Homo sapiens: one gene and its partners. The protein of the gene in region 2 interacts with the protein of the main gene of each other region in a biochemical or structural test. Each region holds a gene or a part of one and is shown on either strand. Other genes may lie near its edges.

Region 1 (7,843 bases), on a different chromosome or scaffold from region 2:
ATAATAGGGAGTTACTGCTGTTGAGGATAGCATTTATTTTCTTTTTTTTTTTTCAATTTTTATTTAAAAAATTATAGGCTAGGCACAGTGGCTCACACCTGTAATCCCAGCACTTTGGGAGGCTGAGGTGGGTGGATCACCTGAGATCAGGAGTTCAAGACCAGCCTGGCCAACATGGCGAAACCCTGTCTCTACTAAAAATAAAAAAAATAGCCAGGCGTGGTGGTGCATGTCTGTAATCCCAGCTACTCAGGAGGCTGAGGCAGGAGAATTGCTTGCACCTGGGAGGCAGAGGTTACAGTGAGCTGAGATGGTGCCACTGCACTGCAGCCTGGGTGACAAAGCAAGACTCCTTCTCAAAAAAAAAAAAAAAAAAAATTCCGAATAGAGCGATAGGGTTTCCTTATGCTGTCCAGCCTGGTCTTGAATTCCTGGGCTCAATGGATCTTCCTGCCTCTGCCTCCCAAAGTGCTGGGATTACAGGCATGAGCCACCATGCCCGCCCTAGGACAGAGTTTCTTTTTAAGAGGATGAAAGTATTCCGGAACTAGATATTAGCGAGGGTGGCAGGACGTTGTAAATGCACTAAATGTCACTGATTTGTACACTGTAAAATGGTTAAAATGGAGGCCGGGTGCAGTGGCTCATGCCTGTAATCCCAGCACTTTGGGAGTCTGAGGCAGGTGGATCACCTGAGCTCAGGAGTTTGAGACCAGCCTGGGCAATACGGCAAAATCCCATCTCTACAAAACATACAAAAATTAGCCAGCAGAGGTGGCCTGCACCTGTTGTCCCAGCTAGTCAGGAGGCTGAGGTGGGAGGACTGCTTGAGCCCTGGAGGCAGAGGTTGTAGTGAGCTGAGATTGTGCCACTGCACTCCAGCCTGGGTAACCTGACCCTGTAATCCCAGCACTTTGGGAGGTCAAGGTGGATCTCTTAAGCCTAGGAGTTTGAGAGCATCCTGGGCAACAAGGAGATGCCATCTCTACAAAATATACAAAACATTAGCCAGGCATGGCGGCGCACACCCGTAGTCCCAGATACTTGGGAGGCTGAGGTGGGAGGATCTCTTGAGCCCTGAAGGTCAAGGTTGCAGTGAGCTGAGATCAAGCCAGTGCACCTCAGCCTGGGTGATAGAATGAGACCCTGTCTTAAAAAAAAAAAAAAAAAAAAAGGCCGGGCACGGTGGCTCATGCCTGTAATCCCAGCACTTTGGGAGGCCAAGGCTGGCCTGACACCGGGAGTTCAAGACCAGCCTGGCCAACATGGTGAAATCCCGTCTCTACTAAAAACACAAAACTTCCTGGGCATGGTGGCAGGTGCCTGTAATCTCAGCTACTTGGGAGGTTGGAGCAGGATAATCACTTGAACCTGGGAGGCAGAGGTTGTAGTGAGTCGAGATCACACCACTGTAGATAGAGAGAGAGAGAGAGAGAGAGAGACTCATTCTGTCAAGCAGGCTGGGTTGGAGTGCAGTGGCGTGATCTCAGCTCGCTGCAATCTCCACAGCCCAGACTCAAGTGATCCTCCCACCTCAGCCTCCTGAATAGCCCACAACCACACCTGGCTAATTTTTGTATTTTTAGTAGAGACGGAGTTTCACCATGTTGGCCGGGCTGGTCTCAAACTCCTGACCTCAAGTGATCCGCCTGTCTCAGCCTCCCAAAATATTGGGATTACAGGTGTGAGCTACTACACCCAGCCTGACCATGTCTATATTAAACCTCAACAAAACTGTTAAAATAAGAAAATAATTGCCAGGAGAAGATGAGAATATCCAGCAGTCCTGAGGGCTCAGGGTTCCGTTTTCCCCACAAATGCCATCATCTGACGCCTCTGGGGATGGTGACCTTGAAACAGTCATGGAGCTGGGCCAGAAACCAGAGACCAGAGTCCCATGCCTGGGATTTGAGCAGTGGTCTCAGAGGCTTCTCAGTTTCTAGGGAAATGCACCCCACATGTCCCACACCAGAGTCCTCAAGCTTGGGAAATGCTTTGGGACAGGAAGACCTCATGGCTCCAAGTACTCAGGACATTATCTCCCAAAAACCTAATGGGGGAGACCTTCATCCCCAAATCAGATCCCCCTAGTGGAGACATTTCTTCAGGCCCTGTAAGACCAACTAGTAATAGAATTAATACCAACAGGCCGGTGCAGTGGCCCATACCTATAATCTCAGCACTTTGGGAGGCCAAGTGGGGCAGATTACTTGAAGTCAGGAGTTCGAGACCATCCTGGCCAACATGGTGAAACCCCATGTCTCTACTAAAAATACAAAAATTAGCCAGGCATGGTGGTGGGTACCGTAATCCCAGCTACTCAGGAGGCTGAGGCAGGAGAATCCCTTGAACCCGGGAGGCGGAGCTTGCAGTGAGCCGAGGTTACACCACTGTGCTCCAACCTAGCCTGCTTGACAGAACAAGACTCTCTCTCTCTCTCTCAGAATGATTCTGGCAAGGGCGACAGAGTGAGAATCCGTCTCAAAAAAAAAAAAAAGAAAGAAAAAAAAGAATTAGTACCAACAATCATAATTCACAGCGTGGGCAGAAGGAAGTGGATAGACTTCCATTCAGAAGCTCCTGGGTTCGAATCCTGGACCCATCCATAAATACACAAGGAAGGAAGGAAGGAAGGAATAGTGGACAAATAGGCCTTTCAGCCCATTCCAAAAGACTTTATCATATCCCTTCTCAGATGCCCAAGCCTTGTGTTGCACAAGGCCAGGGCCCCAGAGAGGCCTCAGGCTTCCAAAAGTTTCCAGCCTTATAGGGGAGATAGTGCCCGACACAGACACTCCCACTACTATTACTGCTCACAGCAATAACAGAAGAAATCACAGGCAGGCGAGACACAGGGAAGGGAGCCAAGGGGGAGGGACAAGGATAGAGGAAGGATGCCAGAACCAAAAAGAGAGAGAGGAAGTGGAGTGCAAGAATGGTAGACGGCACGTGGCCAGTGGCTGTTACACACTGGCCAGGGAGGAAGTTGGGCTGAACAACCTAGATAATAAACGGCAGCGGGAGGCTGATTCGCCTTCCCAGATCTTTCCCATTTCTGTTCTGCTTTTCTTTGCATACTCCCGGAGACAGGGAGCTCACTCCTGAGAAAGGAGGTTCAATGTTTCCTGGGCATGGACCACTGTCCAGAAGTTCCAAGCAAGATGATTTGTCAAGTAGTAGCCCCTATGGGTCAAAGGGCTAAAGGGGGCCAGGCGCGGCGGCTCACGCCTGTAATCCCAGCACTTTGGGAGGCCAAGGCAGGAGGATCACTTGAGGTCAGGAGTTCGAGACCAGCCTGGCCAACATGGTGAAACCCCATCTCTGCCGGGCACGGTGGCTCACGCCTGTAATCCCAGCACTTTGGGAGGCCGAGGCAGGCAGATCACGAGGTCAGGAGATCGAGACCACGGTGAAACCCCGTCTCTACTGAAAATACAAAAAATTAGCTGGGCACAGTGGCGGGCGCCTGTAGTCCCAGCTACTCGGGAGGCTGAGGCAGGAGAATGGCATGAACCTGGGAGGTGGAGCTTGCAGTGAGCCGAGATCGCGCCACTACCCTTCAGCCTGGGCGACAGAGCGAGACTCTGTCTCTAAAAGAAAAGAAAAGAAAAGAAAAGAAAAGAAAAGAAAAGAAAAGAAAAGAAAAGAAACCTCATCTCTACTAAAATACAAAAATTAGCAGGGCATGGTGGCGGACACCTATAATCCCGCTACTTGGGAGGCTGAGGCAAGGGAATCGCTTGAACCCGGGAGGCAGAGGTTGCAGTGAGCTGAGATTGTGCCATTGCACTCCAGCCTGGGCGGCAGAATGAGACTCCATCTCAAGAAAAGGAAAGGAGAGGAGAGGAGAGGGGAGAGGAGGGGAGGGGAGGGGAGGGAGAGGAAGGGAGGGGAGGGGAGGAGAGGAGAGGAGAGGGGAGAGAAGGGGAGGGGAGGGGAGAAGAGGAGAGGAGGGGAGGGGAGGAGAGGAGAAGAGAGGGGAGGAAAGGAAAGAAAAGCCTAAAGAGGATTATCTGGGGAGAGAGAGGTACCCATGTGCGCAACGCAGGCAGTCCCTTGCACAGGCTGGATCTAGAGTAAGACCCACTTGGGTTCAAACCTGCTCTACCACTTACAGGCCTGGTGACTTCATCCCTCCAAATCTCAGTTTCCTCTTCTTTCCTCTGAAAGTGACCACAGTAACTGTGCCTACTCATCTGTGCCTACATACAAGCACAAAACTCATCGCTTTGTGCTTGTATGTAATGAGCTAATGCAATAAAATACCTGGCGCACAGGAGGTGCAGAATAAGTGTTGCCCTGTTCCAGGCAGGCCCAGAGTGCTCCGGTTGTGTCCCAAACACACATGTACTTTCTTACCTCTAAAACTTTGCACCTGCTGTAAACTTCTGCCTCACCAGCTCTTGCCCCACCACCCACAAGGCAAACTCCTACACATCCCTTAAAGCCCTACCTACAAGATAGATTTCTTTTCTCTGTTCAAGCCCTGACCTAGAGAGCTGGGAGCATCCATAGGCACCGGGTTCTGATGCGGCCTACTGTCATGTGATGTGAGTTCCTGGAGGGCAGGAGTTCTGACCTACATGCAGCAGGCACGCAATCAAAGCTTGTTCAATGAAAAAAAAAATGAATGAATGGTCACTTGGGAGAGGCGGCTCCCAAGCGGACACCCAGGAGTCGGCCAACCCCTTTAACGCCCGCATCCCCTGCTCTCCACGACCTCAAAGGGCCTGTAAGTGGTCGACAAAAAGGGGCGGGGATGCGGTGGTTCCGGGCGGGGTCTTCAGCCCTTCCGGTGCGGCCCCTTTAAGAGGCGGGGCCTGCGGGGCGGGCGCCGAGAACGCCGGGGCGGCCCGAAGATGGCGGCGGTGGCTGGATCTGGGGCTGCCGCGGCTCCGAGCTCACTGCTCCTCGTGGTGGGCAGCGAGTTCGGGAGCCCGGGGCTCCTCACCTACGTCCTGGAGGAGCTCGAAAGAGGTCGGGCTGGCCTGGGGGCCCGCGGGAGCCCGGGAGGCGGGCCCGTTCGCGCGTCTGGGCCCGGGGCCGGCGGGGTGGGGCGGCGGCGGCGGCGGCGGCGGGACCCGGGCTCCGGGGCGGGGGTCGCGGGCCTGGGGCTGGGTCCCCTTCACCGTTAGGCGCACGACGCGGGCAAAGGCGGGGTGCCCGTGGGTGCCCGCGGAGAAAGTGGCATCCGGGCCTGGGCTGGGCAGGGCTGCCCCGCCCCAACTCCGGGTGAAGATAGGGGAGGGGACACGGGCCTGGGCTTGGGGACCCTTGCAGTTGGACCACGGCTCCGCTTCCCGCCTGACTGGCCTGCCCGGGGGTAGGGCCTGGGGTCGCTTTGGATCTCCAGGTCTTAGCAGCTTAGATAGAGATCTCCCGGAGGGAGAAGCAGATATGGGGGAGGCTGGGCCTGGAGCCCCGGGGCCCGCTTTCTGTTGCCTCACAAGGAGCTGCTAATTGGGGTGTGGGCGGGTGCGGCCTGCCCTGGGGATTTGGCACCTAGGGAGGTGAGTCATAGGCGCACCTGCCAGGTTCACCTGCAGCCACTTGGCTCAGTGGGACTGGCGGGCGTGATGCGCCCGTGGGTGGAGATGGGTGTTCATCCCCCATCCCTCGGAGCATCTGGACCTGGCGTTTCATTGCATGTAAAATGGGACAGGAACACGCACCTCGGTTCATGTGCTTGAGGAGTGTTTAGTGAGCACCTGCTATGCGCCAGGCCTTTGGGCAGTGGACACAGGGATATGGCCGGGATGATAGACAGGTTCAGCCCTGCCAACACAGGTCTGGTTTGGGGATGGACCCAAAGCGAGTGAGGAGATGGAACAAGCTTCCAGCTCACATGGTGTCAGGAAGGATGAGAAGGCTGCAAGGGACTGAGAGGACAGTCAGTCTTAGCACCCGAAGGTGCTGAGGGGGAAGGGCCCCCTGGCCAGTAGGAACAGGTGGGGGCGGCAGGGGGATGGACTTCCAGGCAGGGGAAACAGCTGTTGCAAGGGCGGTGAGTGGAAACGGGTCTGGCAGGGCATAGGAGCAGCGAGGAGGTGGAGATGGAGGAGGTGGAGGCTTTGTTGCTGATGAATCTTGTGTGTAAAATGATGAGGTGTGCTCTGGGTCCCCTGGCTCAGCTGCAGCGAGACCTGAAGGTGTTGGGTACTTCTGAGTCTCCAAGCTGTGAGTGAAGGGAGGAGGCTGGGGCGCTCCCCACCCACGGGGTGCTAATTATTGAAATATTCTGGGAGCTGGGGGGCCCGGCTGAACTCCCGCCTTGATCCCTCCTTCCCACCAGGCATCCGGTCTTGGGATGTCGATCCTGGCGTCTGCAACCTTGATGAACAGCTCAAGGTCTTTGTGTCCCGACACTCTGCCACCTTCTCCAGCATTGTGAAAGGTGAGGCTGGGGTCCCCCTGACTGCTCCCTACCTCTTGTTATTTGGGGAAGTGCCAGCCGTGTGCCAGGCATGGGGGGTGGGATGCAGCTATAAATAACAACAGTAATAATACAGTTGAGACCTTTCAAATGCAAGCCGTGACCCAGTGATAACCCCCTCAGTCCTCAGCAACCCACAGTGCAGGAACTGGTGTTTTTGTCCCTGATTGACAGATGAGGAAATTGGCATTGAAGGGGGAAGAGGCAGGGAGATCTCTGAGGAGGGGGTTTTTTGATGAGAAACTGCTATGACTGGTGTGTCCAGTGGAAGGGAAGGGCCCCAGTCAAGACCCAGCAGTGGACAGAACATCTAGAATGAACCGGGCGCGGTGGCTTACGCCTCTGATCTCAGCACTTTGGGAGGCCGCAGCGGGCGGATCACTTGAGGTCAGGAGTTGGAGACTAGCCTGGCCAACGTGGAGGAACCCTGTCTCTACTAAGAATACAAAAATAACGGCATGGTGGCAGGCGCCTCTAATCCCAGCTACTCGGGAGGCTGAGGTGGGAGGATCACATGAACCCAGGAGGCAGAGGTTACAGTGGGGCTGAGACTGCGCCACTGCACTCCTGCCTGAGTGACAGAGTGGGAGGGACTCTGTCTCAGAACAAACAAACAAACAAAAAACATCTGGAAGGTGGAGGGGCACTGAGCAGGCCCTGGAAGATGGAGTGTGGGCCCCTTGCAGGAAGGGACTGATACTGGTTCACAGCCACAGGCCTGGGTATACAGTAGGCAGGGAACTGAAAAGGAGTGAGATCAAGAAGGGCCCAACTCAGCACGAGGCTCCCTTCTAGGGTGACCCAGGGTGAGCAGAGCAGCAGGCGGGCAGGCAGGGCTTGGGTGTTGCCTGCAGCCGCCCCCGGCTCCTGATGGTCTCTTGAGTCACCTCCCGGCTGCTGCTGGAGAGGAAGGAAGTGTCTGTAGTCTCATTGTCCCAGTTGGTCCTTGTGGCTTCCTGACACTTCATGGGGCAGAAAGTGGAGCTGGAAATCCTGTCTGCTGTGTGTGAACTTCGTGGCCACTTCCCTTCTTTATGCCTTGATTTCCCCACCTGAATGGGGCAATATCCCTGTGTGGCAAAAAGCGTGCTAAGGCTGGGTGGGGTGGCTCTCGCCTGTAATCCCAACACTTTGGGAGGTCAAAGTGGGAGGATTTTTTGAGGTCAGGAGTTCAAAACCAGCTGGGGCAACATGGTGAAACCCTGTCCCTACTGAAAATGCAAAAATGAGCTGGACCTGGTGGTGCACACCTGTAGTCCCAGCTACTCAGGAGCCCGAGGAGGGAGGATCGCTTTTACCCAGGAGGCAGAGGCTGCAGTGAGCTAAGATTGTGCCACTGCACTTCAGCCTGGGCAACAGAGCGAGACCCTGTCTCAAAAAAATAAACTTAGGCCTGACATGGTGGCTCAC
Region 2 (7,508 bases):
ACGAGTAAAACTACCAAGAACATCAGCATTTAATAGGTGAACAGAAGCAAGAGGAATCAAGCAAATGAGACAAATCCTAAAGAGAAGAGAACCTAGAAAAATGGTGTCATCAATACCAAGAAAAGTGTCTCATGAAGGGGAAAATGGAAGACAGAGTAATATGCCAGGTCAAGGCCTAAAAAGTGGATTTGGTAATTAAAAGAGGTCCTTTCAAAAAGTTAAATAAACATACATCTTACACATACATAAGTCATTAGAAGGACAGCTATCAATGAATGGCTCTCTGGTTGACATAATTAAGGGTGATTTTTAGTTTATTGTTCCCACCACCCAGGTTTTGCAACTGTCCCTCGAGGCACCTTAAGGAATAATTTTTGCAACTGTTCTTCAAGGCACTTTTGAAATAATTTTTCAAAAATACAATAAAAAAATCAATAAGATAATAATGGCCTTTGACAGCGGTGTGACTGCAGTGGATAGGAAAGTGAATGAAAAGTGATGAAATTAAAGGGACAGAGAAGTATGGACAGGGAAGAGACTGAGAAACTTCTAGAGTAAACAGAGTTCCAGGAAAGGTTCTGTGTTTCACGTGGGCAAGATCTGGGCATGCTTACAGGATGTCGGGTAGGAGACTATATACAGTGCTCAGAGTCCAGGAAAAAGAGGGAACAATCACTTCTTTATTGCCTGCTGTCACCTGAACACACAGTGGTGAACAAGACAAAGTCCTGCTCTCATATAGCTTACCTTCTACTAAAGAAAAAAAAAAAAACCAGAGAAATAAGTAATGATATCAGACAAGTGAGGTGTGCCACGAATAAATCTACAGTGGGACCGGCATGTTTTGGATTGAGTGTTGAGGTAAGGCTTCCCTGAAGAGACATTTGAGATCTGAATGATAAGAAAGCAACTTTACAAAGATAAGGGGGAAAGGCCTTTACAGATAATGAAACTGAGGAACAGACAGGTTAGTAAGATGGCTGAGATTACGCAGTAAGTAAACAGAACCCAGGTCTGATGAACACCGAGACCACCCTTTCTACTAAACTATGTTCTCTCTTTATTCAGTTCTCCTCAAATGCAACAGTGAAGATAAAAGAAAATGTGGACCTTCCCCTGGCCTCACAGAAATGCTGAGGATTAGAAAAATAAGAGTAATGGGCACAACTTTCTCAAAAGAAACTCTGAAAGCCAAGAGATGTATATAGTTCTGTGCTCAGAGGCATGATTTCGGAAAGTTAACTGTTCAAGCCCAATAAGAAAATATAGGCAGACTCCAAATTACAAGTACGCTCCATTCCAAAGATTATAACTAAGTTGTTAAGAAATCATAAATTATTTCCTCCACGTAATTTTATGGCGAGATTAGGTGTTCAGGCTGGTCCATGAAGGTCCGCATAACCGTAGATATTATGACTCCTGTAGTAACCAACAAAGCACTTACTAGGCATCAGGCCCTATACTAAGTGCTTAATACAGATAATTCTGCAATATTCCTAACACTACTACTACTCCCACCTTATAGCTAAGGAAGCTGAGGCCTGGAGATGTTAAGTAACTTCTCTAATGGCATAATGCAGATAATTTGAGGATAAAATGCAGATAAATCTGGAGTAGGCTGCAGTCTGGGCCCAGCCTACTGCAGATCCCTGGCTCTCAGTCCTTACGCGAGCTCTCAAAGTACCTTAATTTACAAGCATCAGTCTTTCAAAATCATTTTTTCTCCAATGCTAAAAGCTCAGCACCTATCTCCCCTTCTCTGGTGGTCAGAATACTATTAATAACCAAATGAACACTTTCACCAACTTTTCTTTTCCCCTCCACTACAAAAGTCTATACCAAACCTATCTCTGATAAACCTCAAACCATGAGAGCATTTATTCGCCTATCTGACACCCACTTAGAGTTTAACTTGCCTTTGCATCCCCAGATTCCAACAGAGTGCCTTGCATGTGCTCATTCATTCAAAGACACTTACAGGACGGGAGCGGTGGCTCACACCTGTAATCCCAGCACTTTGGGAGGCCGAGGCAGGAGGATCGCTTGAAGTCAGGAGTTCGAGACTAGCGTGGCCAACATGGTGAAACCCAGTCTCTACTAAAAGTACAAAAGTTAGCCTGGCATGGTGGCGCACACCTGTAATCCCAGCTACTCGGGAGGCTGAGGCAGGAGAATCGCTTGAACCCGGGAAGCGGAAGTTGCAGTGAGCTGAGATCGCGCCACTGCACTCCAGCCCAACTCGCGCAACACCTTCTTAAATGCTGAAGGAAAACTCCATTCAAGAGAACGCAGGCAAAAGCCCAAAGTGATCATAATCCAGCGTCCAGCTTTAAGTCATCCGTGGCTCACCCAAACTCCCAACCCACTCCTCGCCGCCCCATCCCTCGCAAAAAGCTAAATTTCCAATATCTAAATGCTAGGTGGTTACTGATCACCAACGGTGACCGCACGTGGGACACCACCCAAGCTGGCCAAGTGTAAGGAAAAGACCACCACCCGACTTCCCAAAGCAGTCTTCAAAGCCCCCCTCATCTTCGTTGACCATGGGTACCCCGAGGGCAGTAAGGTCCAGGCTGAAGTGGCGGGGGCAGGATTCAAGCCGGAGGCAGGCCATGCCCACAGCCGTGACCTTCTGAAGGCGCTTAACCCTGTCACCCGAAAACCCCTGGTAGGGAGCGTGGTGCGGAGCCCGGGGAGGCTAGGTCCTGGGGCGGGGAGAAGGGTGGCGAGCACAGGCAGGACCCGGTCCCTGCCGGCACCCACGACCCCGGGGGACCCTGGCGCCGCAGCTTGCCTGGAGAAAGGGCCTGGGCACTCACCCGGCCACGGGCCCGGCGCGAGCGGCGGGCAGATAGGAGGCGGCATGCAGCCGGCCCGGGCCGCCAGGGAGGAGGCGCAGGGAGAGCGGGAGGCGCGGGGCCGCCCCGGCACGCAGCAACCAACGCGCGGATCTCAGCAGGGCTGCCATTGCTCGAACGTCCCCGCAGCGGGAAGCACGCTCCGCCAGAAGGACAGGAGGAGCATGTGACCGCAGGGTAGCCTGGCGCGGCAGAGACCAACTGCCGGGCGTGCCAAATGTGGGGGGAGCGACGGATTGTTTTAGGTTGGAAGATGGAAAACCGCACTTCTCCGAGGACAGAAGACCCAATGTAATATTTACATAAACGATGTTGCTTGATTCATTATCGAAGCTTTTCTTTTCCGTCTTCCGTCTCCGATCTGGGCATCGTGTTCATTCGCTGCACCCCTGCACTCCTCTGTTGGTAGAGCCGCAAGAGGTCAACTCCTCCCAGGTTGGCGCAGAGGCTTGTGGGAGGCCAACTAGTAAAAATACCGAGAACTCTCGAGGAGAGCCGACTATGAAGATCCCAGGACGTGGGAAGGTTTCCCCCGCCCCCGAGTGCAGATGTTGCTGCTAACGTTCAGCCCTGACGCCATGTCCAATAGGAACGGCCCTTCACTCTCAGAAACGCGGGCCGGAGAAACCGTGGAGGTCTTTTGCACCTTGCCGTTTGCCTCCCAGGTTCAACATGATAGGATGTGGATTATCAGGGCCTGGGAACAGTGTAAAGGAACGCGCAGGTCCCCACCCTAAGCGCGTACGCGGGGCCTCGCTTTAGAAAATAAATGAATTCTACCAAAAATCCTATAGTTTTAAAGCTGGAATTGAACTGACTCTCTTCCCCAACCCTCCACCCCTACCGCGCCTCTCCCTTCAGTAAATGCACATATACATGTGAGAAGTAAAAGAACAATGTAATTAAGAGTCTCCAGCCAAATATGGGGAGAAAACTGGCAAGTTAAACCCATCGCTGGCGAAGTGGCTCACGCCTGTAATCCCATCACTTTGGAAGGCCGAGGCGGGTGGATCACCTGAGGTCAGGAGTTGGAGACCAGCCTGGCCAACATGGTGAAACCCCATCTGTACTAAAAATACAAAAAATTAGCCGGGCGTGGTGGCGGGCGCCTGTAATCTCAGCTACTCGGGAGGCTGAGGCAGGAGAATTGCTTGAACCCGAGAGGTGGAGGTTGCAGTGAGCCAAGATGGCGCCATTGCACTCCAGCCTGGGTGACACAGCGAGACTCTGTCTAAAACAAAACAAAAAAACCACGTCGCTGCCTTCACAGGGCTTACAGACTGGATCGGTTCCCTGTGCACACGTGGGAAGCTGAGAACAGCCTTCCACTCCCTCTACACCTGCCTGTCCCCTACCTATCACGAGGCAAACGCGGCGGGTATTTCCTCTGGAAGCCCTCCCACGGTCATTTCCGAAGTGACTGTTTATCCCACTGGACTCCTTATCAGTTAATCCCACGAACTCCTTATCAGTAGGGACTGTGATCTCTTATTGTAGGCCATACACCTACCCAGTGCCAGACACACAGTAGGTCTCATTAAATATGTGTTAAATTAATGTCTATTTTGAGATGACCTAGCTCACCTCTCCTTTGAGAGATGAGGGAACGAAGACACCCGCTCCAAGCCCCCAAAAGAAACAAGGTGAATTGATTGACTCTGGGTTATATTACTGAGCACTGGGAATACAAGTTATTCACCTATTCAACACGTATTTATTGAATACATATCCAGTGCCATACACTATTTGAAATCCTAGGAATACAGCAGAGAACAAAACAAACCAACCCTAGATTCTAATTAAGCTCTTTAAAGTTTAATTTGGGAAGACAAAAAGAACTGTGATGCAAAATACGCCAGGGTAAAGGGATTGAGGGTGTCATGGGGGGAGTTGCTTTTTTTTTTTTTTTCTCAAGACAGGGTCTTGCTCTGTCACCCAGGCTGGAGAGCAATGGCACGATCTTGGCTCACTGCAGCCTCGACGTCTGGGCTCAAGCGATCCTCCCACCTCAGCCTCCTGAGTAGCCGGGATTACAGGCCCAAGCCCTGGCTAATTTTTGTATTTTTAGTAGATACGGGTTTTTGCCGTGTTGCCCAGGCTGGTCTCAAACTCATGGCCTCAAGCAATCTGCCTGCCTCGTCTCCCAAAGTGCTGGGATTACAGACATGAGCCACGACGCCCGGAGAGTTGATATTTTAAATAGGAAAAACGTTGAACAGAAACCTGAAGGAAGGAAAGGAGGAAGCCAGGAGAATTTTCTGGAAGGAGAAAAAAAAAAAGAGTGGTTAAGGCTTAGAGAACAGCAAACACCAAAACCCAGAGGCAATAATAGGTGTAGCCTATTCAGAGAACTTTAAGGAGGAGGACTGTGTGGATGAGAGAAAAGAGCAGGGGGTAGAGAGCAGGGGGTAGGAGTAGAGGAAGGAGCAGGGGGTGGAGAGGGGCCTGGAGGTCAGAGAGGTAGTTGGAGGCCATATCAAACAGGGTGTTGTAGGTGGCCGTGAAGACTGACTTTTATTTAGACTGAAGACTTTTACTTAGAATGAGATGAGAAACCATTGGATAGTTTGGTGTGTTGCTTTTAAAGAGATGGAGTCTTGCTGTGTTGCCCAGGCTAGAGTGCAGTGTCTATTCACAGGTGCAATTATGACACACTACAGCCTTGAACTCCTGGGCTCAAGCAATCCTCCTACCCTGGCCTCCCAAGGAAGTGGGACTACAGGTGCATGCCACCACACCCTTTTGCTTTTTTTTTTTTTTTTTAAGTGCAGTGGCACAATCTAGGCTCACAGCAACCTCTGCCTCCCCGGGTCCACGCGATTCTCATGCCTTAGCCTCCCAAGTAGCTAAGATTACACGCATGAACCACCACACCCAGTTAATTTTGTATTTTTAGTAGAGATGGGGTTTCACCATTTTGGCTAAGCTGGTCTCTAACTCCTGGCCTCAAGTGATTTACCCACCTCAGCCTCCCTAAGTGCCGGGATTATAGGCGTGAGCCACGGCACCCAGCCACCCATTTGCATTTTGAAAGGGTCACTCTATCTGCTGTTTGGAAAGGAGATTTTAGGGGAATGGGGATAAATAAAAATAGACCAAAGAGAAGGCTAATCCAGAATAGAGATGCTAGTGGCTTGGATTAGAGGGCAGCAGGTGAAATGATGAGAAAGGGTCAGGTTCTTACTCTATTTAAATAGTAGAACCAAGGGGATTTACTGATGGATTGGCTGTGGATTGTAAGTCAAGAACGGCTCCAAAGGTTTTGGCCTAAACAACTAGAAAGATGGAGATGACTCTGATTTAAAAGGAGAAAACAAAGAGAAGCAGATTTAAAAAGTGAAATCAAAAATGATCTTCTAGAATATTAAGCTTGTGCCTGCTAGACATCCAAGCGTCAAATTTGAATAGGGGTTGGCTATATGACATACAAGTCAGTTCAGGGGAAAAGTCAGAGCTAAAGATACATTTGGGAATCTGCAGCTTGTACCTAATATTTGAAGCCACAGAAATAGATGAAAGCATCTAGGAAGAAAATGCAGATAGACAAGAGAGGGAGTCCAAGGACTGAGGCTTGTGTCATTTCAATCTTTAGAGGATGTATAGATGAAAATCTAGCAAAGGAAACTGAGAAAGAAGAGCCAGAGAGGCAGGAGAACTGAGCCCAGTGAGGTCACAAATACCTGAATGAAAGAAGTCCTTCCAGGAAGGAATTATCAATCACATACAATGCTACTGTTAGTTCCAATACAATGAGCATGCAACATTGACCATAGAATTTGTTGTTTGTTTGTTTGTTGAGAATGAGTCTTACTCTGTCGACCAGGCTGGAGTGCAGTGGCGTGATCTCAGCTCACTGCAACTTACGCCTCCTAGGTTCAAGCAATTCTCCTGCCTCAGCCTCCCAAGTAGCCGGAACTACAAACACGCACCACTATGCCTGGCTAATTTTTGTATTTTTAGCAGAGACAGGGTTTCACCATGTTGGCCAGTCTGGTCTCGAACTCCCGACCTCAGGTGATCTGCCCGCCTTGGCCTCCCAAATTGCTGGGATTACAGGCATGAGCCACCGCGCCCAGCCAATTATTGCTAATTTTCTAAGGCATGATAATGGCTTTGTGGTTACGTAAGAAAAAATATGTTTAGAGATGCATGTTGGCACTGGAATATGTAGAAGTAAATTAACATGATGTCTGGAATTGTCTTTTTTCTTTTTTTTTTTTTTTTTAATGAGGCGAAGTCTTGCTCTGTTGCCCAAGCTGGAGTGCAGTGGCGCCATCTCTGCTCACCGCAACCTCCGCCTCCCGGGTCCAAGCAATTCCCTGCCTCAGCCTCCCGAGTAGCTGGGATTATACGCACCCGCCACCATTCCTTCCAATTTTTGTATTTTAGTAGAGACGAGGTTTCACCATTTTGGCCAGGTCGGTTTTGAGCTCCTGACCTCGTGATCCACCCGCCTCGGCCTCCCAAAGTGCTGGGATTACAGGCGTTGAGTCACTGTGCCCAGCCTGGAATTGTCTTTAATATACTTCCCCAAAGAATAAAAGGCCGGGCACAGTGGCTCACACCTATAATCCCAGCACTCTGGGAGGTCGAGGCGGAAGGATCACTTGAGCTCGGGAGTTTGAGACCAGCTTGGTCAACATGGTGAAA
Region 3 (7,907 bases), on a different chromosome or scaffold from region 2:
CAGACAATTTCGATTTTGTGACTTAATAGAATATATGCTGAACTTAACGGTAAGAAGGCACTTTACTTTTTTGAAACACTTGGTAAAATTGCATGTAATGCCTGGTAATGAAGCGATAAGTGATACCTTTACTCTAAAACACACTTTGGAAAAAATAAAATGAATCTTGAATTCCTTCTAAAGGAACTTCAATAAGGTGTGAGTAACTTAACCCTTTTGACACGCATTAACCACAGGGATGACACTGTGTGTAAAATAACCTTGGTGTTAACAACTGCGCAGCAAAGACCAATCTTTATTATGCCGTGGAGTCCAATATGAGAGGCGAAGAAAGGTATGTTTTAAAAAGGTGTTTAGCTCGGCCGGGAACGGTGGCTCACGCCTGTAATCCCAGCACTTTGGGAGGCCGAGGCGGGCCGATCACGAGGTCAGGAGATCCAGAACATCCTGGCCAACATGGTGAAACCCGGTCTCTACTAAAAACACAAAAATTAGCTCGACGTGGTGGCTCGTGCCTGTAATCCCAGCTACTCGGGAGGCTGAGACAGGAGAATCGCTTGAACCAGAGAGTCGGAGGTTGCAGTGAGCCGAGATCGCGCCACGGTACTCCAGCCTGGCGACAGAGCGAGACTCCGTCTCGGAGGAGGGGAGGGAGGTGTTTAGCTCAACTAGACAGCCTTTACAGCAATTCCGCCACCGGTGACAGTGAGAAACTGTCAGCTTGGGGAGGCCGCGCCACGACTGGACCCCGCCCCCGGGAAGCCTCCCCGGAGCCGAGGGCCCCCGGGCCTTCTCCTCGGAGTCGGGAAGTGCCTGCCCCCACGCTAAGTCTCTCCTGGCCACGCTCTGAAAGGCAAAAATGGCAAAAATCCTCCTTCAAGGCACCGCTCCCTCGACGCGCACCGCCACTCCGACTCCCTCAAAACATTGGTCGCAAAGCCCCCCCGCCTGGTCCTCCATGCTCAAGAATAGGGTGGCAAGGCAGGAAAAGACTCACACATCCCAGCCCCCGGCCCCTCAGGGCAGCCTCTGTGTTTCTAACTAAAAGCCTCCTACCAGGGGCAAGACCAAGTTCGGGCGCTTCCCCGCATGGAGAAACGCTGGCCCCACGGCGCCCGGCCCCGACGCGCTGGCCCTTTAAAGGCGCGGGCTTCCTGCGCCCGGGGCCCCTCCCACGCCACCGCCACCGCCACCGCCACCGCCCGCGCCCGCCCCCGCCGAGGGTCACACTTGAACTTTAGCTCGCCCCGCGCGGCCAGGCGCCGGCGCTCCGCAGGCGGTGGCCGCCCCTTCGCACGTGTCGGAGGCACCACCTCGGGCTCGGGACGCCGGGCCCCCGGCACTCGAGGCCACTCCGGAGAAAACCAAAACAAAGCAAAATGCGCACCGCCTCCAGAAACTGCCCGGCAGGCCCTGCACCGTCCCCGGCCGGTCGCGCCCTGCCTGTCCCCTCCACCTGCAGCCCGGTCCCGGGGCAGCGAGGCTCCGGGGCCCCTCGCCGCGCCCTCCCCCGCCGCGCCCGGCGGAAACAGCTCCGCGGCGCGGCCGGAGAGAACCCGCCCTCCCCCCGCGGAGGTCCGGGAGGGAAGGGGCAGCCGAAGCAGTCGGCGCGGGCCGGGGGTTGCCGCTCCCAGCGAACCCCTTTCTCCTTTCACTGGCAAACTTTTCGGCCTCGCTCTGACGTCCACTTCTTGGCGCACTTTCTTTACTTAGTTCCCCAACGAGCCCCTTACCGCGTCCCACGCGAACTCCTGACTGGCGCGCACGCACACCTACTGCCGTCCCCGACCGGACCCGGGCGAGGCCACCGCGACCACCGCTTCTCGCCCGCCCTCCTGGGAACGCGCTGCCCTCCTGCTCCGCACCTTCAGGCCGAGCAAACCTGCACAGCTGCGCCCTCGCCTGACCCACCGCGCCCCCAAGGTCCGGCCGCGCGCCGAGTCCACTCACCTTCCAGCCCGCCGAGCTGTTGCTGTCACCCTTATCCTTGAAGTAGGGCACGCTCTTGACCATCCACTCGTAGATCTGCGACAGCGTGAGCCGCTTCTCCGCCGAGCTCTCGATGGCCTTGGTGATGAGGTCGGCGTAGGACAGGTTGCCCCACGCGTTGCGGCGGGACGAGCTGCTCTTGCGCGGCTGCCCCGCGAGCGGCCCAGCGGCGGCGGGGGGCACCGGCGGGTGCTGCGACAGCGGCCCGGGCGGCGGGGGCTGCGGTGGCGCTGGGTGCAGGCAGCCCGCCTCCGGGCCCTGGAAGTCCCCGCACAGCCCCCCGGTGGCGGCCGCGGCGGCCGCCGCCGCCACCGCCGCCGCCACGGAGCCGGGCGCCTGCGGGAAGTCCTCGCTCTCCTCCAGCAAGCTCAGGTTGCTCATGAAGTCGGCGCTGACAGCGGCAGCCGAGGCCGAGGGCAGGCCCGCCGCGGCGTCGGGGTTGGCAGCCGCGCTGCCCGACGGCGCCGGGCTGGAGGTGGCCGAGTTGGACTGGCTAAACTCCGGCCTGGGCAGCGGCCAGGTGCACGAGCGCGGCCGGGGCAGCGGCTCGAAGTCCGGGTCGATCTCCACCACCTGAGGCGCCTCGGCCATGGTGACCCCCGCCCCTCCCCCAGCCGCAGGAGAGCCAAGAGGGGGAGAACGCAGCACTGGGGGCGGACGGGGAGGGGGCGCGAAGGGACGGTCCGAGATTTGGGGGAACGAAGCCGGTGCGGCGAGCGGACGGAAACTGGGAGGAAGGCGCGGCGGAGTGGAAGCGCGAGCCCAGAACTTAACTTCGCGGGGCCATCCACATCGAGGCTCCTCGGGGTCCGCCGCACGGACTGGACGGCCGGCCAGAGCCGCCGGGCCGGGGCAGAGCCTGCGCCGCGCTCCAGCTGACAGGGCCGCGGACGGAAGGACGGACGGACGCCGCGGGCCGCTTGCTCTCCCCAGCGGCGCGCCCGCTGCGCTGCTGCCTGTTGAATGTGGCGGCTGCGGCAGCGGCTGCTGCGACTACCAGGCCGCCCGACTTACGGGATCTGCCGCCGCCCCCCGCCCGCGGCGGCGCGCGCGCCGGCCCGCCCCTGACCGACAGCCCGCGCGGCCAATGGGCATGCGGCACCGCCGCCCGGGCAGCCAGTGGGCGCCGGGCTGGGTGGGGCCCGGTTTTCCACGGGGAGGCGGCGGTGGGCTGGTGGGGGGTAGTGGGGTGTTTTTCTCTTTCACACACTCACCTCCTTTTTTTTTTTTTGGATCTCTATTATTTTCTGGTAATTCTCGAGTGTTTCTGTGATTCTCTCGCCTTCTCAGTGTTTTGATTGCTAGGAAGCAAACCAGCGTGGAGGCGCCGGCGACACTTTGTTTACTACGGAGCAGCAGAGCCGAGTACTCGGGAAGCCCGGGTGGGAGGAGGCGCTCGCTGCTCCCTGACCTCCGCTGCGGGCCGAGCCCGGCGGGCTGGCAGGGCAGGGGGCCGAGGGCCGGGGGCGCGGGGTGGGCGGGCGGAGGCGGCCGCGAGGAATTCTACTCAATCGCTCCCTCCTGGCTCCACCCACGATGTCTTTGCTGAACGACGTGGGGAATCGGTGGGTTTTGTTTTGGTTTAATGTTTTCTTTCGCTGCGATCTGTCAAGTCCTCCGGCCCCCTCGCGAGCGGCACACGCCCCCCACCCCCGGCGCCGCGGCTCCTGCAGTCGAGTCCGCGCCGAGGGACCCTTCTCCGTGCCCACCGGTCCGCACCCCCGGGCTCAGCCTGTGCCATTCGGTCTAGCCAGAGGCGCGTCACCCAGCCGGCAGCCCCCAGCCGGATTCACTGTATTCTTGACCTTTTTTAAAATGCTAGAAATGAGGAACAGGGGCTCCGGCGCGGGGAGGAGATTATCTGGCCTCCCTGAACACACGAATCCAAAGGCACCCGCGACCGCATGCCCTCCGTGGGAACCTCTTCCCCTGGGCGGGAATCTCCCGCTCCGTCCACTAAGTCCAGGGCCGGCAGCGAAGGGCTCAGGAGCGCAGTTAGAGAGAACCAGGTCATTTTATTACTTATCCCTAATTAAATTTAGCTGTTTGTTACTTCTTTTTTATTTGCAACGGAAGTGATCGGGTGTTAAGTAAAAACGCAAGGGGGGCGGGAGATAGGACCAAAGCCTTGGGGCGCAGCCTGCCCCACCCCCAAATTCCTTGAGGCTACTTGCTGTGTGTGTCAGTCAACCCCCCACCCACACCCCACCTTTCCTCATCTGGGCTGCAGGTCCAGGACATCCTGTCAAGGATCAGTGGGGCCAAAGGTGGGAAGATAATGGCCCTTGTGTCTCAAGCAGAAGAAACAGTTTTCCAGTTTTGTTTTGTTATGCTTTTGCTTTTTTAGGAAGAATATGGAAGGCATTTCCTTTTAGAAAGATGGGACCACTTAGGATGGAAGATGGACAGTAGGGTTTTAAATATCTTGTCCAAAAGGACAGCTTCCAACTCTTGTTTTTTAATCCCTTTCTTTCTTACAAGTAATTCTGCAATGGAAAAAGTGGCATCTAGAGAAAATTAGTCAGTTGGACAAGAGGTTGTTGAAAAAATAAAAGAGAAAAGAGGGGAAAAAAGGAAAAATTAGGCCTCTTACAAAAGTTAAAAAGATTGAGAGAGATTATCTTTCTTCTTTTATATTCTCACTATCGTCTCTCTAGTCCGGGCTCCTGTTTCTTCATAATCTATTTATCACAACAGCTTCTTGCTGATACTAGGCATGGGTGGGGTGGGGAGCGTGAGCCGGATGGATTGGGGACGGGCGGGGACTGGTTCCCACCCTGGTCTTGTGGTCTCTTCACGTTTACTATCAAATTTGGACAGTCTGGGCCTCCTCTGACAGCCGCTAGGGGACCTCAGTAACTCAGATGATGAGCTCAAAGGCAGGCCCCCAAAGTACAGCTGTTGCTTCCCCCCACCTTTCCAATTACACTCTGCAGAAGCAGCCCCCGATCCAGACAGCCGCACCCTAAAAATAGGCGGTGCCCTACTGGATCATTCTTGGCAAAGGAAGCCAGCTTCAAATTTGGCCTTGCCTTCATTTCTATTCCGGTTTTTCAGGGCGTCAGAGAATATTTATTTGGTTAAAGGAGTCTTCCTACAGACTTTCCCCAAATCCTTGAAATCTTTGAGGCTCTCCTGCCCAATTGTTTCTTCAAATGTCATAGTTTACTTTTATTTGGTCTTTCTTTAAAAAAATTGACGAGGCAGGCACAGAGAACCTATAACACCAATGTCCCTGACACATAGGTCCAAAAAATTAAAAATATATATTGAAGGGTTTTTACAGCTAACCACCACACTGTTGTATCTAAATATCAATTTACTGAACCCCAGGATGTTGGTGAATATTTCACTTGTTTCCAGTCTTTAGCTATCATAGACTATTCTGTAAGAAATAACCTTGCAGGGAGGCCGAGGCGGGCGGATCATGAGGTCAGGAGATAGAGACCATCCTGGCTAACACGGTGAAACCCGTCTCTACTAAAAATACAAAAAATTAGCCGGGCGTGGTGGCGGTCGCCTGTAGTCCCAGCTACTCAGGAGGCTGAGGCAGGAGAATGGCGTGAACCCGGGAAGCGGAGCCAAGATCGCCCCACTGCACTCCAGCCTGAGCAACAGAGCGAGACTCCGTCTCAAAAGAAAAAAAAAAAAGAAATAACCTTGCATAACTTTAATTTCATATCTGTACAAGTATATATATAGGAGCAATTTCCAGAAATGGGAGTCACTGGGTCAGCAGGTATACCCATTCGTAGTTTTGAAAGGCACAGCCAAATTGTGCTCCACAAGGGTTATATCAAGCTAAACTGTCTTTTCCATTAGACCCACAGAACGTTAAACTTGAAAGTAAACTCGGAGATCACCTTGGTGACCCCCTTTAACTTAGAAAAAGAGAGGTGCAGAGATGCTGATTTGCCCCAGCGCACATAATAAAAGTGGTGATGCCAGGGCTGTAGCTCTAATTTTTTGCTTTCCCATTAGTAACCTTCTCAAAACACAGATGGAAAATTATAAATATCCTGTAATCCCACTATAGCAATAACCATTATAACTTCGTAGTGTATTTCCTTCCAGTCAACCCGCAGATCTTAGTAATCATAGTTAGGTGAACTCCACTGAACCAAATAAAGGTTTGAATTAAAAGAACAAATAGGCCGGGCACAGTGGCTCATGCCTGTAACTCCAACAGCTTGGGAGGCCGAGGCAGGTGGATCACCTGGGGTCAGGAGTTCCAGACCAGCCTGGCCAACATGGTGAAACCCCATCTCTACTAAAAATACAAAAATTAGCTGGGCGTGGTAGCAGGTGCCTGTAATCCCAGCTACTCAGGAGGCTGAGGCAGAAGAATCCCTTGTACCCCGGAGGTGGAGGTTTCAGTGAGTCGAGATCACACCACTGCTCCAGCCTAGGCGACAGAATGAGACTGTATCTCAAAAAAATTTAAAAATTAAAAAAAAATAAAATAAAATAAAAGATCAAGAAAACAGACATAAAACAATGATAGTGGTAATAAGATAATGAAAGAAGAGATTACAAAAGAAGTTTTTCTGTTTTTTTTTTTTGTTTTTTTTTTAGTCAAAAATGTAAATGTTGCCATCTCTGAAGGGTGACATAGTATTTAGGTCATCCCTGGTTCTGCTTAAGGGAAAAAGTTCTTTTCTCCTTCCTTGTGTTTTGTGGTTGCAGCTTGCTTTGAAGGTATTTTCTACTGATTATCACTTAGTTGCTGCATGTGTCTGAACTGGGAAGAAATAGGGAAGAAAAATGTCTCATGTCAAGTAAGGACAATTAAAATGAAAAAGGAAATTTATCCTTACAAAGTCCATCTCACAAAACTATGTGATGTTCTTTTCTGTGCCTGGTTTTCAGGGTAACTATTGCCTCATCCTTAACAGGAAGACTGAGGGATGGTTCCCTTTGATCAATGCCCAGGCAGAAATTTCTACATTTACCCCTCACCAACACATGATAGATCTCGGGTTTAAATTTAAATTTTTACTTGTCAAAATAGATAATTTAAGTTCCATTTAATGAGTAAGTGAAAAACTTGGATGCTGATTTTTCAGTCAGGGCACTTCACTTCGTATTTCACATTCCCTTTCCCCAACAACTGTCCGTTTCCAAAACTTTGTCTGAATTATTAGGAGGTACTGCTGTCAACCTGAAACAGCCTTTCTTCACTTAGCCCATAGAAAGTAATAATCTGAAAAAAATATATATAGCCTCAGGTCTTTAAACCAATGTCCTGAAGGCTGGCATATTAACTGGTAGCTGTAGTAAGATTAGAAGTAACCATTCGTTTCTCTTAAGGGATAATTTCCTTGGGGTTTTGTCACTAATTCCACAAATATCTACAGAGCACCTCCTACATATATGTCAGGTGCTGTGCATCTTAGAGTCCATTGTTTTGATGCTAAATTCCTTGAGCTCCAAAATGGTTTATTTTCCCTGATACGATATTTGCTATCAGAGTTAAGAACGCTGTTCTTTTCTAATCAGCAATGCATAGTGACAATATTTATTTGGAGGAATTACACAAAAATGTTTTTGATAGGTAAAAGAAATGCTAAGGCTGGAAAAATTGAAATATAGTCACCATTTTGGAGGAAAATAATGATATGAAGTGGAAAAGATTTAAAAATGCACCATCCACAGGCACTGGGAGTATGAGTTCCGACCACTAAGCCTCATGGTTGGGATGATCTTATTACAAATGGACAAAAGACGGAGACTACCTCTGGTTATCTGTCTACTAACCTGTAACAGAAGGGAAGCAGTGAACCACTTCTTTTGTCAATTCTGTTGTGAAGGGCCAGTGTTTGTCAACTTCAATAAACTATTCCTTCACTTTAGGTATTAGTGAGAGACTACTTGTGGGTCTCTGCAGGAATACTAACACATATTTGTAGATAACCTAA
Region 4 (7,018 bases), on a different chromosome or scaffold from region 2:
AAAAAAAAATATTATAAAATGCTTTGGACCCTAGTCCAACATAGCTGGAATGATAAGTTATTTAAAATACAAGTCCCCATCCAGAAAGACAGTGTGCTTACGTAGCACCTGTCTCTTAGAAGTTCAATGTGCTTTAGGTATGATTATCAATTAATTGCATAATTACATTATTCAGAATATACTCAGACTTACTGTTAACTCCAGTGACTAAAGAGCCCCTGCCACTTGCTGCCAAGAAAATGAGTCCTGAACTTACAAGGTTAGGAGTGAAACTGATATGTGTATTTGTTGACCCCAAAAGAAATACCACCCCTTTTCAAGGCAGAAAAAAATGAGAGAAGAGGGAGTAAGACACTTCTTTAAAAAGCCACAAAACATCTTATGAAAAACCACAGCCAGTGCATATTTTATAATACAACCCCTGAAAAAAGCCCCCCAGCAGCAGGGTGAGCAGAGGGAGCCGTGAAGATTTTGAAACCAGAGTGACTTGCAGTAACTGCCTAACAATAAATTCACAGAGTAAAATGCAGAATAGTTGACATATAACCAAGGTTTATGTTGTATCTAGAAATATGTTTTATGCTTTAAAAAAAATTGCAATGCACTCCAAAAATTTTTTTCTGATAATTCATGTACAACAGAAGGCACTGTTATCCGCATAAATCCATTGATTCTGCATGGCAAAAACCTGAGACGTGCAAGTCTATCCAATCCTCTAAAACAACCTTGGGCATTCAGCCTTTGGAACATATGGGTTGTCCTTTTCCGTCCAATGATTGTTTTTCTTTCATTTCATACTTACAGTAGCTGTTTAAAATATATATTTCAGGGTGACAAAGGTCAAAGGGGAAAGAGTAGATAAAAGTGCTGCCTAATGCCAGATGGTAACTGGCACAGCAGGAGGGCCCTAAAAGCAGCCCCTCATTTCATCCCCTTGACCCTCACACTCCTCTTGTGAAATAAAATGCAGCGATGACATTTGGTCAGCTGATGTTCTTTCCTTCAGTTGTTGCTGGGCACAGTCCCAAAATTAAATGCGGAGAGGACTCCTTTGTTTTCAAAGGTGAAGCCTCCCTGTTGTTCAATCTTCTTCTTTGCCTCTAGCATTTTTCAAAAGAAAAGGGGAGAAGAAAAAAAAAGAATGCTTAAGGTGACAAAGTTGGAGATGACTCAAAGGAGCCAGATTCTTTATATGCTTAGAACTGTGAAAGAATGTGACTGGTAGTATTAGTTATCCTGCCAAAGAATAACTAAGAATAACAGACCTATGTCAATAAGGTGGTATGTTCACTACCATCGGAAAATCTGCAAAAAACGAGTGAAAAGAAAACACGTCTCAGAGGTGGATTCTACTTCACTGTCTCTACTGCTGAAAGGGGGCCCAGACTTCTCATATCAGGAAGGCTGACTGAGAATCTGCACAGAACTGAAAATCTAAGTCCATGCAGAAGAGCCAGCATTCTAAACTCTAGATGTCTAGTTTGCCATGTTTCCTACTAAAATTTTTTTGTAACTACAAAATCTTTTCCAATGACAATCTACAAGTAACTACAATAATCAACACAGAGTAATTCCTCCAGCTTAAAAACTGAAAATCAACAACAAGAAACAATGTCAAATAAAGCCCAACAATGAGAAATAGAGAGCATTCCATTTCCAGGAATACAAGCTCCTTGCAAGAATTCGTCAAGTCCCTTTGGCCCACGGTTGAAATGTTTAGGGGAGTGATCCAACTGATTAAGTCTCCCTCGGCAAGACTTATCCCAACCCTTACTTTGTACCTTTGCCTCCAACATAGGATAAGAATGTGAATGAGAACACCACTAGGAAATACATATTAATGTGCAGGTTTTTGCAAAGCTAAGACATCATGAGTGATTAAAACAATCATACAATAATGACAATTCCTTATTATCTTAAAGGGTAAGTCTCTAACAATTTCAAAAACAGTGTTTAGGTGCCACCTGGCTCATCAAATAAGGCTGTCTGTTGGCACTCTGACACATGCACTCCACTCTGGAGGTTACTCTGGCTGACCTGCCACCGTCCGTCGGTGCTCTGCCAGTGTGTACACCTCCTGCAGTGCTGTCCTCTGATCCTCGCTGAGTGGTGCCATCAGCAGCTGGTACCAGGCTGCATCTCGACTCTGCACAGCTGTTGCATTTTGGGAGGAAAAGACAGGAGGGTACAGCGACTATTAATTTACAGAACAAGTAGTAACATGATCAAATTACAAAGAAATTATCCCAGACAGTAAGAGACAAAGAGTACAGTACTACAACACACACAAGGTAATGAAACTTACGCCAACAAAGGATTATTTCTGAGTACCCACTTAGTACCCAGCTATGTGGGAAATCAAAGGAAGGTTAGGACATTGCAAATCTCTAGTCTGCCTAGTTCTCTGTCTCCTTTGCTGTCTTCTATGGATGTTCTCTAAAATCCAGAACACCAGTACTCACTTGTTACCATTTTCCTCTGGAATTTTCATACTACCTGCAGCTTTAGTATTGCTACCACCCCAAGGATTCAAATCTGTACCTCTAGGAAAAACCTTCCCCTAAGCCTCCTGGACTGTTCCATTTGAATAGCTCATCTCAAACTCAACACAACTAAAACCAAATTTAACAATTTCCTCCCAAACCTTCTATCTCTCCATTTATCTCACCAGTTCTATTAGTCTCCCAGTCCACTACTGTGCATCCTTAACATCCCTGAGCATGCCCTCTCCACACCCAAAGCTCTGCTTCTTTCTTAATGTCTTTCATCTGTATGCTGCTTTCCATCAAATGTCACCCTCCCCATTCCAGGTCTCTATACATCTAAATTAATAAAGTGAACCTCTAACACTTGGCTCCCACATCTAGTCCTTTCCAGTTTTTTCTGCACATCATCCATCACCGGGTAACTCCCCTGAAGTGAATTACCACATCTAAAAGGTCACCGCCTCAGAACACAACTTTCAACGCTATTCCAATGGGCAATGGGATGGACCACCTCAGTCCAGAATTCAAGGCCACTATAGCCCAGCCCAACTGCGTTCCTTCACAGTCTTTAAGCAGTGGCCCCTACATGCTGGTTTAAAGTTGCTTGTCACTTGAGAAGCATCTTTAAAAATACATCTCCTGAGATCCTACTCAAGACCTAAAAGCCTCCTTGGTGATTATGACACACCCATGTCTGGAACTACACTAGGCCACATCCTCCATATTTCCATCTCCACGTTTATGCTGTTACGTTTCCCATGCTTTGGAATATAGTTTCCTGTGTTCTCTGCCTCCAATTCCTCTGAATTTCAATAAGAACATCTAGGTAGTTTTTTCTTCATTAATGTTATTTGTAGCAACACTAAAAAATGCCAATATATTAAGCTAATATTGCCTTATTAGTAAAAACATTTACATGTAAGGATGTTCATTTTAATAACCCTCATAATGGTAAAAACATTGGAAACAATCTTAAATGTCCCACAGTGGAACTAAATTACAATGTAACTATGGAAATACTATCTAACCATAAAACAAATAATCTATATTAATGAGATTTAAAATAATTTATTTGATTAATAATTTTCTAAATATCCTCATTGGCTTGTTTTTATTCTGTAAATTTTCCATTTCCATTTTCTACTAGGTTACTGGTCTTATGTATCTGAGGATGGCCTCTGTACACTGTGTACATTATGCCTATTATGCATATGTGGCAAATATTTTCTCCCCCCGAATCATTTATGAGTCCTGTAACTGTAATTATACTGTTCTTTGTTGTATAAAATTGGCAAATTACTTACAAAGTAAAAAGTCACCCTCTTACGGCAGCAATTTCATTCTAGGGATTGTGAATAACTAGTAGGTTGTTAGCCACAATTTTTAAGCAATGTATGCCTGAAACACTTCATTCTTTGCTATAAAAATGCTTGCCCATTTATGCCTAAAGGATGAACAATATACACAGATACTCCACATATTACTTTTGCAAGGATAACATACAGGCTCACCCTGCTACTTCTCAATGATGAAAGCTGCTAGGATTGGGTGATAGGTGTTTCATTATTTTAATTTCTATCATTTCATGTATGTATGTTTGGGGATTTCTATCATAAGGAATAAACAAAAAAATTTTTAAAAGAACCTAGACCAATCTTGGGCAAATATCAAAACAGGAAGAAATGAAGAAAGAGTTTAGAAAAAAAAATATCAGAAGATGTGGGGAAGTAAAGACATACTTATCAGAGCTTGTGTAAAAAACTGATATTCATCCACACTATTGTCAAGGTCAAGTGGAGTACTGAACCCCTCAAGCGCGGTTTCTTCCAATACTTCTTCATCCCAGTCATCATCTTCCTCCTCCTCATCTTCACCTCTTCCATTATTTGACTGCATTGCTTGAGCAGTTACATTTGTCTCCTCTTCATCACTTGAAATCTCCTCTGTGAACCCATTAATTATTTAAAAGGAATCAAAACACATAAGGACAAAATATAAAACTTCACGACAAAAACCAAAGACTATAAAACTACACTCTGGAAAGGAAAAAATCTTCCACAAAATTTTAATAAAAATAAATCTTATCCCTGGTCTAAAGAGGAGAGTCAAAAAATAAAAATAAAAAATAAAATAAATAAACCTTATCTTTACTGTAGAGTTTGCTAAGTTGAGAATGTCCTTATCCTCCTCACTGAAAACAAGTTCCCTAAACCTGTTATCCAGATGAACATTACTACTGTTAGGCTATGCAAGTTCATTAATACAAGAATATTATTCAATTGCAGATTTCAAAATTACCTTTGTTTAAAAAAAAAGTGACTGTACGGTCAGTGCATGTGTTTTAAACAATGACTTCCTATTGAGAATTCAGTCCTCTTAATTAACTGAGTTGATTATAAAGTGCTTAGAAATGCCCAAATGAGATCATTTCTGCTAGTAGAAACAGTAAAAATACAGATCCAGCCATCCCACTTCAGGATATATATCTAAAATATTTTAAATCAATACGTAGAACAGATGTCAGCAGCCCTGTGTTCATCGCAGCATTATTCACAATAGCCAAGTTACAGAATCAACCTAAGTGTCCATCAACAACGGATGAATAAAGAAAATGTGGATTCTTTAAAATGAAACACTATTCAGCTTTTAAAAAGGTAATTCTGTCAATTCCAACAACACTGATGAACTTGGACATTATGATAAGTGAAATAAGCCAGGCACAGAAAGACACATACTGCCTGTTCTCACTTATACATAGAATCTAAAACAATCAAACTCATAGAAGTAGAGAATAGAATGGTGGTTACCAGAGGCTAGAGGTGGTGGGAATATGGGAATGTTGGTAAAAGGGTACAAAGTCTCAGGAAGAATTAGGTTTTTGTTTTGTTTTGTTTTGTTTTGGTATCTATTGTACAGCATGGTGAATACAGTTAATAGTATATGTACATTTCAAAATTGGCAAGATTGTAAATTTCAAATGTTCCCACCATTAAAAAGGGTATTTAAGGTGATGGATATATTAGTTTGATTTAATCATTCCGCATTATATTCACAAATCATAACATCACTTTGTACTCCATAAATATATAATTTGCTAATTTATAATAAAAAGAAATAGCAAAAATGTAAAGAAAAATAGCTACATGTCGCTTGAAAAGTTAAAAACTTGAACTACATTATGTATCACCATGGATTCTGTATCTATTTTCAGTGTCAATCTGTTCCTAGCAGTTAGATTGTAACTGAAATACTGGAACAGGAAGGCAGTAAATGCAGAACAAAAATCAAGATAAGAGAGAAATCCTGGAGTAAACCCAAACCAGGTAATATTAACCTAAAACTAGTTCTATTAGACACACCATATTGAAGCAGGTAGATTGAACTAGGTAGTTTTAGGAATAAGGCACTTAACCAGAGTTTGGACCAAATACACGAAAAAATGCATGGCAAATTATAACTATTAATACAAAAAGACTGAGAAATACCTCCACTAGTTAATCATTCCATACTTTAGTAGGAAGTACAAGAAAGTGTGGGATATTACCAGAAAATTTTCCCTCAAGCCATACAGTATAAGCCAATAAAGAGTTGCCAAAACAAGAAATTAGAGATCATAACATACTGGAAAAAATAAAAGAATTCTACAACTGTTGACACACAGTTAGCTAAAAACAAAACAAAACAAAACAAAAATCACACATGCAACACTTCTAATAAAGAAGCATTTCTTCAAAAGACCTACACAGATTTCAGAAAAACAAATTAGAAGCTGTATTTTGTGCTGTGGAGGGGAGAAAAAGGGTAGTTTATAATCTCTGGTATATGAACAAACTGGGATGATGCCAGTTAAAAGTGTTTTAAATCTATCCATGCTAAAATCACAGAATTTAGCATCAAAAATAGAGCTGTATGTTTACCAGGAAGAGTTCTGATTTTTCTCAGCTAACAAAGTATCTGTTTTTAACCAGGAGAGGAAAAAATCCACCTGGAATAGGAGAATGCTACTTCCTAGTCTCTAGCAAGTAGCTCCGCAATCTCATCATTAAACAAAACAAAGGTCTAATATTCAACTCTAACAATCTTATTCTGATTCTCAAGTATATCCACTTCATTTATGTACTTTACCTTAATTTATATTTAAATCACAAATATGGACGTCTCTCAAATGTAATTTTTGCTAATGAGTCACCTAAGAACCATTCCAGAAAAAGAAAAAAAAGACACTCTCTACTAATCTGTGGTACTAACACTTCAGCTCTTAATGTAATGATTCATTTAACTCATGGCTACTGCCTTGATGAGGCTGTTAGCACAAACAAGAAAGTTAGATACTAGATTGCTAACTTACAGTCAAGACCATTTGATTGTTATAAATGTGTTTCCTAATGTGTAACAGCATCTATTAGGCTCCATAAAAAAAACCGCTGAGTATATTAGGTGTCAGAAGGTGCATAAATCTAAATTTATATAGCATGATACAATTAATAGCAAGTCAACCAAGCCCAAAATATTTGTTATATGTGTAGCAGGCC

Evidence for each region.
Region 1: the proteins of LRPPRC (region 2) and MAP1S form a complex in vitro, tested with the Homo sapiens proteins (one study listed by BioGRID).
Region 3: the proteins of LRPPRC (region 2) and FOXO1 form a complex in vitro, tested with the Homo sapiens proteins (one study listed by BioGRID).
Region 4: the proteins of LRPPRC (region 2) and IPO8 form a complex in vitro, tested with the Homo sapiens proteins (one study listed by BioGRID and IntAct).

What each region holds. Positions count from the first base shown.
Region 1 is NC_000019.10:17,714,644-17,722,486, forward strand, and holds the start of MAP1S (microtubule-associated protein 1S), read left to right. Parts: upstream 1-4,836; 5' UTR 4,837-4,859; coding exon 4,860-4,977; intron 4,978-5,512; exon of another isoform or gene 5,513-5,747; coding exon of another isoform or gene 5,748-5,787; intron 5,788-6,292; coding exon 6,293-6,394; intron 6,395-7,843. UniProt on the Homo sapiens protein: Microtubule-associated protein that mediates aggregation of mitochondria resulting in cell death and genomic destruction (MAGD). Plays a role in anchoring the microtubule organizing center to the centrosomes. Binds to DNA. Plays a role in apoptosis.
Region 2 is NC_000002.12:43,992,980-44,000,487, forward strand, and holds the start of LRPPRC (leucine-rich PPR motif-containing protein, mitochondrial precursor), read right to left. Parts: upstream 3,011-7,508; 5' UTR 2,969-3,010; coding exon 2,820-2,968; coding exon of another isoform or gene 2,795-2,819; intron 1-2,794. UniProt on the Homo sapiens protein: May play a role in RNA metabolism in both nuclei and mitochondria. In the nucleus binds to HNRPA1-associated poly(A) mRNAs and is part of nmRNP complexes at late stages of mRNA maturation which are possibly associated with nuclear mRNA export.
Region 3 is NC_000013.11:40,663,633-40,671,539, forward strand, and holds the start of FOXO1 (forkhead box protein O1), read right to left. Parts: upstream 3,010-7,907; 5' UTR 2,581-3,009; coding exon 1,951-2,580; intron 1-1,950. UniProt on the Homo sapiens protein: Transcription factor that is the main target of insulin signaling and regulates metabolic homeostasis in response to oxidative stress.
Region 4 is NC_000012.12:30,629,858-30,636,875, forward strand, and holds part of IPO8 (importin-8), read right to left. Parts: intron 4,430-7,018; coding exon 4,226-4,429; intron 2,155-4,225; coding exon 2,038-2,154; intron 1,101-2,037; coding exon 1,003-1,100; 3' UTR 1-1,002. UniProt on the Homo sapiens protein: Involved in nuclear protein import, either by acting as autonomous nuclear transport receptor or as an adapter-like protein in association with the importin-beta subunit KPNB1.